2 linked regions of the Homo sapiens genome follow. The protein of the gene in region 1 interacts with the protein of each later gene in a biochemical or structural test. Each region holds a gene or a part of one and is shown in the gene's direction. Other genes may lie near its edges.

Region 1 (3,684 bases):
GAGCCACAGAAAATGCAGACACCAGCACCTCAGCCCTAAGCAGCTAGAAGATGGGGCAGCAGGCTGGAACTCGCTCACTGGGTCCTTCTCCCCTCCTGGGCCCTAGCTGGGCCTGTGGCCTGGCTGTACCCAGCATGGCTCATGTCCAGTTTATGGTTCCCCTTCTTTCCCTCTAGAGCATGGGAATGGGCAGGGAGCCAGAGGCTGTGGTTCCATCTTCCCTCCTTACCCAGTAGGGCCTATGGATGTTAGGGAGGGAGGCTCCACACAAGGTCCAAAGTCAAACTGTTGGATGGGGTCCAGGGGATTTCTGCTCTGGGAACAAAGCGTCCTGAGGATGCTGGGCAAGAGGACAAGGATGGGGGTGGAAGGCGAGAGGACAAGGCCCTGACTCCCATGGATGATGCGGGAGGCAAGGCCCTCGGCCCATCCAGGAGGGGCTGGGTTGCTTAGGGGTCGCGTGCCAAATGACAGTGTGGGAATTTCCTTGTCCTGGCACTGCCTCTAGACTTTTCCTCTCTGGCCCAAGTTGTTCCTCTTCAGCTAGCTCTGCCCTACTGTCTTGAACATCATATGTGATGCCCCTCTGATGAAATGAAAGATTCTTCTTTGCTAGTGTTAGCAGGAATCACCCTTTGTTCACTGGACCAAGGCCAATGAGATGACCTCGCCTGAGGAGGGGTCCAAAGACATTCAAGTGCCCGCTTCGCTCCTTGTCAGAGCCCTCTGCTTGAGCAGTAACCCCTCTTCCCAGCCCTGCCCAGACCTCTCCCGGGCCCCGTTATCTTCCACTGAGGCCCTGATTCCCCAGGAGGAGGTAGGAGGTGAGGCCAGTTGGGCCAGAGGCCTGGGCTGGTGCCAGAGAAAGCTGCCTGGTCTCTCTGTGGTGTCTGGAAAGGCCAGGGAAGGGAGGAAAGGAAGTCCTGCCTGCAGCACCGCCAGCAGCCCACAGGAATGCCACACCTCCCAATCCATGTCCTCAACGACCCTCCCCGCATTCCCACTCTGCTGACTAGCCTTTCCTTCTCTCCCACAGCTGGACGCACAGAACAGTCTCTCCGTGGGAGGAGACATTATGGGGCGTCCACCACCACCCCTCCCTGGCCATCCTCCTGGAATGTGGTCTGCCCTCCACCAGAGCTCCTGCCTGCCAGGACTGGACCAGAGCAGCCAGGCTGGGGCCCCTCTGTCTCAACCCGCAGACCCTTGACTGAATGAGAGAGGCCAGAGGATGCTCCCCATGCTGCCACTATTTATTGTGAGCCCTGGAGGCTCCCATGTGCTTGAGGAAGGCTGGTGAGCCCGGCTCAGGACCCTCTTCCCTCAGGGGCTGCACCCTCCTCTCACTCCCTTCCATGCCGGAACCCAGGCCAGGGACCCACCGGCCTGTGGTTTGTGGGAAAGCAGGGTGGACGCTGAGGAGTGAAAGAACCCTGCACCCAGAGGGCCTGCCTGGTGCCAAGGTATCCCAGCCTGGACAGGCATGGACCTGTCTCCAGAGAGAGGAGCCTGAAGTTCGTGGGGCGGGACAGCGTCGGCCTGATTTCCCGTAAAGGTGTGCAGCCTGAGAGACGGGAAGAGGAGGCCTCTGGACCTGCTGGTCTGCACTGACAGCCTGAAGGGTCTACACCCTCGGCTCACCTAAGTGCCCTGTGCTGGTTGCCAGGCGCAGAGGGGAGGCCAGCCCTGCCCTCAGGACCTGCCTGACCTGCCAGTGATGCCAAGAGGGGGATCAAGCACTGGCCTCTGCCCCTCCTCCTTCCAGCACCTGCCAGAGCTTCTCCAGGAGGCCAAGCAGAGGCTCCCCTCATGAAGGAAGCCATTGCACTGTGAACACTGTACCTGCCTGCTGAACAGCCTGCCCCCGTCCATCCATGAGCCAGCATCCGTCCGTCCTCCACTCTCCAGCCTCTCCCCAGCCTCCTGCACTGAGCTGGCCTCACCAGTCGACTGAGGGAGCCCCTCAGCCCTGACCTTCTCCTGACCTGGCCTTTGACTCCCCGGAGTGGAGTGGGGTGGGAGAACCTCCTGGGCCGCCAGCCAGAGCCGGTCTTTAGGCTGTGTTGTTCGCCCAGGTTTCTGCATCTTGCACTTTGACATTCCCAAGAGGGAAGGGACTAGTGGGAGAGAGCAAGGGAGGGGAGGGCACAGACAGAGAGGCTACAGGGCGAGCTCTGACTGAAGATGGGCCTTTGAAATATAGGTATGCACCTGAGGTTGGGGGAGGGTCTGCACTCCCAAACCCCAGCGCAGTGTCCTTTCCCTGCTGCCGACAGGAACCTGGGGCTGAACAGGTTATCCCTGTCAGGAGCCCTGGACTGGGCTGCATCTCAGCCCCACCTGCATGGTATCCAGCTCCCATCCACTTCTCACCCTTCTTTCCTCCTGACCTTGGTCAGCAGTGATGACCTCCAACTCTCACCCACCCCCTCTACCATCACCTCTAACCAGGCAAGCCAGGGTGGGAGAGCAATCAGGAGAGCCAGGCCTCAGCTTCCAATGCCTGGAGGGCCTCCACTTTGTGGCCAGCCTGTGGTGGTGGCTCTGAGGCCTAGGCAACGAGCGACAGGGCTGCCAGTTGCCCCTGGGTTCCTTTGTGCTGCTGTGTGCCTCCTCTCCTGCCGCCCTTTGTCCTCCGCTAAGAGACCCTGCCCTACCTGGCCGCTGGGCCCCGTGACTTTCCCTTCCTGCCCAGGAAAGTGAGGGTCGGCTGGCCCCACCTTCCCTGTCCTGATGCCGACAGCTTAGGGAAGGGCAGTGAACTTGCATATGGGGCTTAGCCTTCTAGTCACAGCCTCTATATTTGATGCTAGAAAACACATATTTTTAAATGGAAGAAAAATAAAAAGGCATTCCCCCTTCATCCCCCTACCTTAAACATATAATATTTTAAAGGTCAAAAAAGCAATCCAACCCACTGCAGAAGCTCTTTTTGAGCACTTGGTGGCATCAGAGCAGGAGGAGCCCCAGAGCCACCTCTGGTGTCCCCCCAGGCTACCTGCTCAGGAACCCCTTCTGTTCTCTGAGAAGTCAAGAGAGGACATTGGCTCACGCACTGTGAGATTTTGTTTTTATACTTGGAAGTGGTGAATTATTTTATATAAAGTCATTTAAATATCTATTTAAAAGATAGGAAGCTGCTTATATATTTAATAATAAAAGAAGTGCACAAGCTGCCATGTGAGTCGTGGGAAAGTTGCTTTTGGGGTGTGGGTGGCAAACATCAGGGTGGGTGGGCAGCAGTTGCCGGATGAACCCCAGCTCAGAGAACCTTTTTCCACAAAACACAGGGGAGGAAGGTTCTCTCCAAGTTTCAGTCTTGGTACCAAAACCTCCTGTATTATTGCTGTCCCAAACACATTCATCTGCATATCTGCTCGTATTGGGCAGAAAGTGGCCAAACATCAGGCCTGGTCACTGGCCCCTGCTCCTGCCCAGCCTAGCCCAGCCTGGGAAAATGGCTGGTTGGGCTCTGTCCAAGGGCCCCGGCGGCCTGCAAGGATAAGGCTCCTTGACTGCTGAGCCCTGCTGACCAGGGCAGAGGTTGCTGGCTAGGTCCTTGCAGACTCTGAGGTGAATGAATTCTGTTTCCAGGCTGGGAAGTGAGTGTGGTTAGCAGGGGAGAGCCAGGAGTCCGTGTAAGGGCCCTCGTTCGGGCTCGACCTTCCTACTGGAGCTGGAGAG
Region 2 (7,040 bases), on another chromosome or scaffold:
AATTTTTTTTTTTTTTTTTGAGATCAAGTCTTGCTCTGTCACCCAGGCTAGAGTGCAGTGGCATGATCTTGGCTCACTGCAACTTCCACCATGGGTTGGCCAGGCTGGTCTTGAACTCCTGGCCTCAGGTGATCCACCTGCCTCGGCTTCCCAAAGCGCTGGGATTACAGGTGTGAGCCACCGCACCCAGCCAATGTTCAGCTATTGATTGATTGAGACAGAGTCTTCCTCTGTTGGCTAGGCTGGAGTGTAGTGGCACAGTCATGGCTCACTGCAGCCTCAACGTCACAGGCTCAAACGATTCTCCTGCCTCAGCCTCTGGAGTAGCTGGGACCACAGGCATGTACCACCATGCCTGGTTAATTTTTAAATTTTTTGTAGAGAAAGACTCTCACCATGTTATCCAGGCTTGTCTCAAATTCCTGGCTGGGCTTAAGTGATTCTCCCACCTCCACCTCCCAAAGTTCTTGGATTACAGGCATTAGCCATTGTCCCTGGCCAATGTTTAGTTCTTATTTTTAAAATAAATTTTAATTTTACATTTATCCTCATTGTTAAGCAAGTGATGTTCAGTTTTTGTTTTTTGTTTTGTTTTGTTTTGTTTGAGATGGAGTCTTGCTCTGTCACCCAGGCTGGAGTGCAGTGGCGCGATCTCGGCTCACTGCAACCTCTGCCTCCCGGGTTCAAGCGATTCTCCTGCAGAGATCCTGCAGTGAGCCGAGATCGCGCCACTGCACTTCAGCCTGGTGACACAGCAAGACTCCGTCTCAAAAAAAAAACAACACTATAGCCTTTTTCTGCTGTTTTTAGAACCTTCTGCTACTATATCTACCACTTACACCACCACATCCATAAGCACCACCATAGGGACTGCCTGAGCTTCTTCCACCAAAACTGCCTCCTTTCATAGGTCCATAATTTGATTGCTGTTGTCCACTATAATTGCTAAAATCATTATAGTTCCCATCACCAGCATAGTTACCAGCGCCAAAATTTCCTCCTTCATTGTAACCATCATATCCTCCGCCACCGCCACCATATCCACCACCTTGGTTTTCATATCTTGCTCCACCACCACAGCAGCCCCGTCTACTGCTATAAGCAGGCTCACCATCATTGATGCCACCATCACCTCCTCCATAACTACCTCTGCTGCCACCATCTCCACCACCACAGTCTTCTCTTCCACCAAAGTTTCCACTGCAGCCAAAATTACCTCTACTACCTCCAAAGTTTCCTCTGTAACCTGTAAAATTGCCAGATCCACCTCCACGACTACTTACCATCCAGCAGGCTACCTCTGTTATTTAGTAAGGGCCTTTTTCACTTCACCATTATGCCCATTAACAGTGTGGTATTTCTGGCTGGGCGTGGTGGCTCGCACCTGTAATCCCAGCACTTTGGGAGGCCTAGGCGGGTGGATCACGAGGTCAGGAGTTCGAGACCAGCCTGACCAACAAGGTGAAACCCTGTCTCTACTAAAAATGCAAAAATTAGCCAGGCTTGGTGGTGCACACCTGTAATCCCAGCTACTCAGGAGGCTGAGGCAGGAGAATCCCTTGAACCTGGGAAGCGGAGGGTGTAGTAAACCTAGATTTCACCACTGTACTCCAGCCTGGGCAACAGACGGAGACTCTGTCTCAAAAAAAAAAAAAAAAAAAAAAGCCAGTGTGGTATTTCTGAACAATTTTAAAAACTATATCTTGATCATCAAGTTACAAAAGCAAATCCTTTTTTCGACTCTGCTTGTCTTCCATAACTTCTATGGTTTTAATCTTGCCATACTTTTCAGAGGTCTCTCAAATTATATTCTTCTGTATCTTCTTTATTTTATTTATTTTATTTTTTTGAGACAGAGTCAAGCTCTGTTGCCCAGGCTGGAGTACAGTGGCGCAATCTCGGCTCACTGCAACCTCTGCCTCCTCGGTTCAAGTGATTCTTAGCTCCCTGAGTAGCTGGATTACAGGCGCCCACCACCACGCTCAGCTAATTTTTGTATTTTTAGTAGAGATGGGGTTTCACCATGTTAGCCAGGCTGGTCTTGAACTCCTGACCTCGTGATCTGCCCGCCTCGGCCTCCCAAAGTGCTGGGATTACAGGTGTGAGCCATCGCGCCCAGCATTGTTTTTATTTTTTCTTGAGGTGGAATCTCGCTCTGTCGCCCAGGCTGGAGTGCAGTGGCATAATAATTGCCTCTGCCTCCTGGGTTCATGTGATTCTCCTGCCTCAGCCTCCTGAGTAGCTGTGACTATCGGCTCACACCACCACACCTGGTTAATTAAAAAAAAATTTTTTTTTGGCCAGGCACGGTGGCTCACACCTGTAATCCCAGCACTTTGGGAGGCCGAGACAGGTGGATCACAAGGTCAGGAGATCGAGACCATCCTGGCTAACATGGTGAAACCCCGTTTCTACTAAAAATACAAAAAAAAATAGCCACGTGTGGTGACAGGCACCTGTAGTCCCAGCTATTTGGGAGGCTGAGACAGGAGAATGGCGTGAACCCAGGAGGCAGAGCTTGCAGTGAGCCGAGATGGCGCCACTGCACTCCAGCCTGGGTGAGAGAGCGAGACTCTGTCTCAAAAAAAAAAAAAAGAAAAAAATTTGTACAGACATGGGAAGGGGGTCTCTATGTTGACCAGGCTGGTCTTTAATTCTTAGCCTCAAGTGACCCTCCCACTTCAGTCTCTCCAATTTTTTTTTTGACACAGAGTCTTGCTATATTGCCCAGGCTGGAGTGCAGTGGCGTGATCTTGGCTCACTGCAACCTCCTGCTCCCAGGTTCAAGCAATCCTCCTGCCTCAGTCTCCCAAGTAGCTGGGATTACAGGCGTGTGCCACCATGCCTGGCTAATTTTTGTATTTTTAGTAGAGATGGGGTTTCACCATGTTGGCCAGGCTGGTCTTGAACTCCTTACCTCAGGTGATCCACCCACCTTAGCCTCCCAAAGTGCTAGGATTACAGGTGTGAGCCACCGCACCCAGCCTTTTTTTTTTTTTTTTTTTTTTTCCCCCAGAGTCTCACTCCATTGCCCAAGCTGGAGTGCAGTGGCGTGATCTCAGCTTACTGCAACCTCCACCTCACAGGTTCAAGCAATTCTCTTGCTTCAGCCTCCCAAGTAGCTGGAATTACTGGCACCAAGCCTGGCTAATTTTTTTGTATTTTTTGTAGAGATGGAGTTTCACCATGTTAGTCAGACGCATCTCAATCTCTCGACCTCAAATGATCTGCCCACCTCAACCTCCCAAAGTGTTGGGATTACAGGCGTGAGCCACCAAACCTGGCTTCTAGATACTTTTTTTTTTTTTTTTTTTTTTTTTTTTGAGATGGAGTTCACTCTTGTTCCCTAGGCTGTAGTGAAATGGTACAATCTCGGCTCACTGCAATCTCCGCTGCCTGGGTTCAAGCAATTCTCCTGCCTCAGCCTCTCAAGTAGCTGGGATTTATAGGCATGTGCCACCATACCTAGCTAATTTTATATTTTTAGTACAGATGGTCAGGCTGCCTTGTTGGTCAGGCTGGTCTTGAACTCCTGACCTCAGGTGATCCAACAGCCTCTGCCTCCCAAAGTGCTGGGATTACAGGCTTGAGCCACTGCGCCCAGCCTAGATACCTTTTCCTTATTAATTTCTAATTTAATTCCATTGTGGCCAGACAACATATTTTTAATGATTTCAATCCTTTTAAATTTGTTGGCCGGGCACAGTGGCTCACAGCTGTAAACCCAGCACTTTGAGAGGCCAAGGTGGGCAGATCACAAGGTCAGGAGTTCAAGACCAACCTGGCCAACATAGTGAAACCCCATCTCTACTAAAAAAACAAAAAAATAGCCGGGCATGGTGGCACGTGCCTGTAGTCCCAGCTACTTGGGAAGCTGAGGCAGGAGAATCACCTGAACCTGAAAGGCGGAGGTTGTGGTGAGTCAAGATCATGCCACTGCACTCCAGTCTTTTGAATTCTATTGTCTGATATTAATATCCCACTAACATTCTCCCATTAATAAGCCATTCTAGCTTACTTATGGTTGTCTGCATGATATATCTTTTTTCCATCTTTTTACTTTTAGCCTTTTTTTTTTTTTTTGAGACGGAGTCTCGCTCTGTCACCCAGGCTGGAGTGCAGTGGCACGATCTCGCCTCACTGCAACCTCTGCCTCCTGGGTTCACGCCATTCTCCTGCCTCAGCCTCCCGAGTAGCTGGGACTACAGGCGCCCGCCACCACGCCCGGCTAATTTTTTATATTTTTAGTAGAGCCAGGGTTTCACCGTGTTAGCCAGGATGATCTTGATCTCCTGACCTCGTGATCTGCCTGCCTCAGCCTCTCAAAGTGCTGGGATTACAGGCTTGAGCCACTGCGCCTGGACTAATTTTTTTGAGACGGAGTCTCACTCTGTCGCCCGGGCTGTAGTGCAGTGGCTGATCTCGGCTCACTGCAACCTCTGCCTCCTGGGTTCAAGCGAGTCTCCTGCCTCAGCCTCCTGAGTAGCTGGGATTACAGGCGCACGCCACCACGCCTGGCTAATTTTTTGTATTTTCAGTAGAGATGGGGTTTCACTGTGTTAGCCAGGCTGGTCTTGATCTCCTGACCTTGTGATCCGCCTGCCTTGGCCTCCCAAAGTGCTGGGATTATAGGCGTGAGCCACCGCGCCCGGCCCATTAACTTTTGTTTTAATTTTTTTTTTTTTTTTTTTTTTTTGAGACAGGGTCTCACTCTGTCATCCAGACTGGAGTGCAGTGGCACAATCTTGGCTCACCGCAACCTTCACCTCCCGGGCTCAAGCAATCCCCCTGCCTCAGCCTTCAGAGTAGCTGGGACTACAGGCATGAGCCACTCTGCCCAGCCTTGTTTATTTATTTTTTTAATTGAGATGGAGTCTCGCTCTGTTGCCCAGGCTGTAGTGCAGTGGTGTGATCTCGGCTCACTGCAACCTGTCTCCTGCGTTCAAGCAATTCTCCTGCCTCAACCTCCCAAGTAGCTGGGACTACAGGCGCACACCACCACACCTGGCTAATTTTTTTTTTTTTTGTATTTTTAGTAGAGGCAGGGTTTCGCCACATTGGTCAGGCTGTTCTTGAGCTCCTGACCTCAGGTGATCCGCCCACCTCGGCCTCCCAAAGTGCCGGGATTACAGGCGTGAGCCACTGCACCCGTCCCCGGCCTTGGGTTTTTTATTTATTTATTTATAGAGTCTTGCTCTGTTGCCAAGGCTGGACTGCAGTGGCACAATCTCGGCTCACTGCAACCTCTGCCTCCTGGGTTCAAGTGATTCTCCTGCCTTAGCCTTCCAAGTAGCTCGGACTACAGGTGTGCACCACCACACCCAGCTAACTTTGGTATTTTTAGTAGAGATGGGGTTTCACCACGTTGGCCAGGGTGGTCTCGAACTGGGATTACAGGCGTGAGCCACTGCCCCTAGCCTGTTTTAATATTTTAAATGTGCTTATATGGCCAGGCACGGGGTGGTTCACGCCTATAATTCCAAGTACTCAGGAGGCTGAGGCAAGAGGACTGTTTGAGCCCAGGAGCTGTGATCATGCCACTGCACGCCATCTGGGCAACAGAGCGAGAGCATGGCTCTAAAAATAAATTAAAATCTGGCTGGGCGCGGTGGCTCATGCCTGTAATCCCAGCACTTTGGGAGGCTGAGGCAGGCGGATCACGAGGTCAAGAGTTCGAGACCAGCCTGGCAAATATGGTGAAACCCTGTCTCTACCAAAAATACAAAAAATTAGCCGGGCGTGGTGGTGGCAGGCGCCTGTAGTCCCAGCTACTCGGGAGGCTGAGGCGGGGGAATCACTTCAACCCAGGAGGCGGAGGTTGCAGTGAGCCGAGATTGCACCACTGCACTCCAGCCTGGGCAACAGAGGGAGACTCTGTCTCCAAAAAAAAAAAAAAAGAAAATTAAAATAAAAAAAAAAAATGAAAAAATGAAACATGCAAAGCTGGTGAAACTGTCATTCATCAGTGTATGTAATGTATACATGTAGGTTGAGCAGCACTAATAAAACTGACATCCACGCGCCCACTTGCCAGCTGAAATTACCTAACAAGCCCTTTGTAGCCCCCTCTCATGCTTCACTGTGTTAATCATTCAGTTGCTTTTCTTCAGAGCTTTGCCGTGTGTGCCTGTGCAACATATAATGTCATGTTGGCTATCTTTGAACTTTAAATAGAATCAGGCTGAATGTATGCTCTGTAATGTTTTTCTGCTTAATTTCCAAGATTTCCTTATGCTTATATGTAGCAGTTATTAATTTTTACTGCTGTATAGCACTACACTCTATAATCCACAATTTATTCTACTCTTGAGCACAAACGGGCTGTTTGCCGTTTTTGACTTTTACAAACAATGCCGCTGTGCATATTGCTTGTGTGCTTCTGAGGTATTGTGCCTGGGAAGAACTGCTGGGTTGTAAGGTACGTGCATGTTCAGCTCATCTAGTTAATGCCAAACTGTTTCCAAGGTGGCTCGTACTAATTTCTCTTCCACCAGCAGGGTGGGAGGTCCTACTTCTCCACTTCCTTGCCAGCATCTTCTTGACAGTGTTTTTGCATCCTAACATATCTGCCACCTGAGTCTTTGTAAGAACAGCCAACGCTGAATGTTCACTCACACAGTGCCAGACCCTGTACTGAGGGCTCTGTGTGTGATTTGATTTCACCCTCACAAGACCCCCATCTATTATGAACATATTATTGATGACCAAGAGAGCAAGTCTTTGTCCTGCTTCTGCCCCAGACACTTCCCTTCTGCCGGGGCCCCATGGTCACGTTGCCTATCTTCGTTTCCCAGCCTAGGTGGGGCCGAGTCCCAGCAGGGCCTCAGTGCCACCCCTGGACCCCTTTCTCCTCAGGCTCTTACTCTCTGTCAGTCCGCCTCAGCCGCCCTGCATCCTGGGACCGGATCAGACACTACAGGATCCACTGCCTTGACAATGGCTGGCTGTACATCTCACCGCGCCTCACCTTCCCCTCACTCCAGGCCCTGGTGGACCATTACTCTGGTATGGCCTTTCCCTGCCTCCAGGACTAGGCTGGG

Evidence for each region. The genes of interacting proteins can lie anywhere in the genome.
Region 2: the proteins of CSF1 (region 1) and SLA2 form a complex in vitro, tested with the Homo sapiens proteins (one study listed by BioGRID).

The regions. Positions count from the first base shown.
Region 1 is NC_000001.11:109,927,816-109,931,499, forward strand, and holds the end of CSF1 (macrophage colony-stimulating factor 1 isoform a precursor), read left to right. Parts: intron 1-1,036; 3' UTR 1,037-3,177; downstream 3,178-3,684. UniProt on the Homo sapiens protein: Cytokine that plays an essential role in the regulation of survival, proliferation and differentiation of hematopoietic precursor cells, especially mononuclear phagocytes, such as macrophages and monocytes.
Region 2 is NC_000020.11:36,615,190-36,622,229, reverse strand, and holds part of SLA2 (src-like-adapter 2), read left to right. Parts: intron 1-6,855; coding exon 6,856-7,005; intron 7,006-7,040. UniProt on the Homo sapiens protein: Adapter protein, which negatively regulates T-cell receptor (TCR) signaling. Inhibits T-cell antigen-receptor induced activation of nuclear factor of activated T-cells.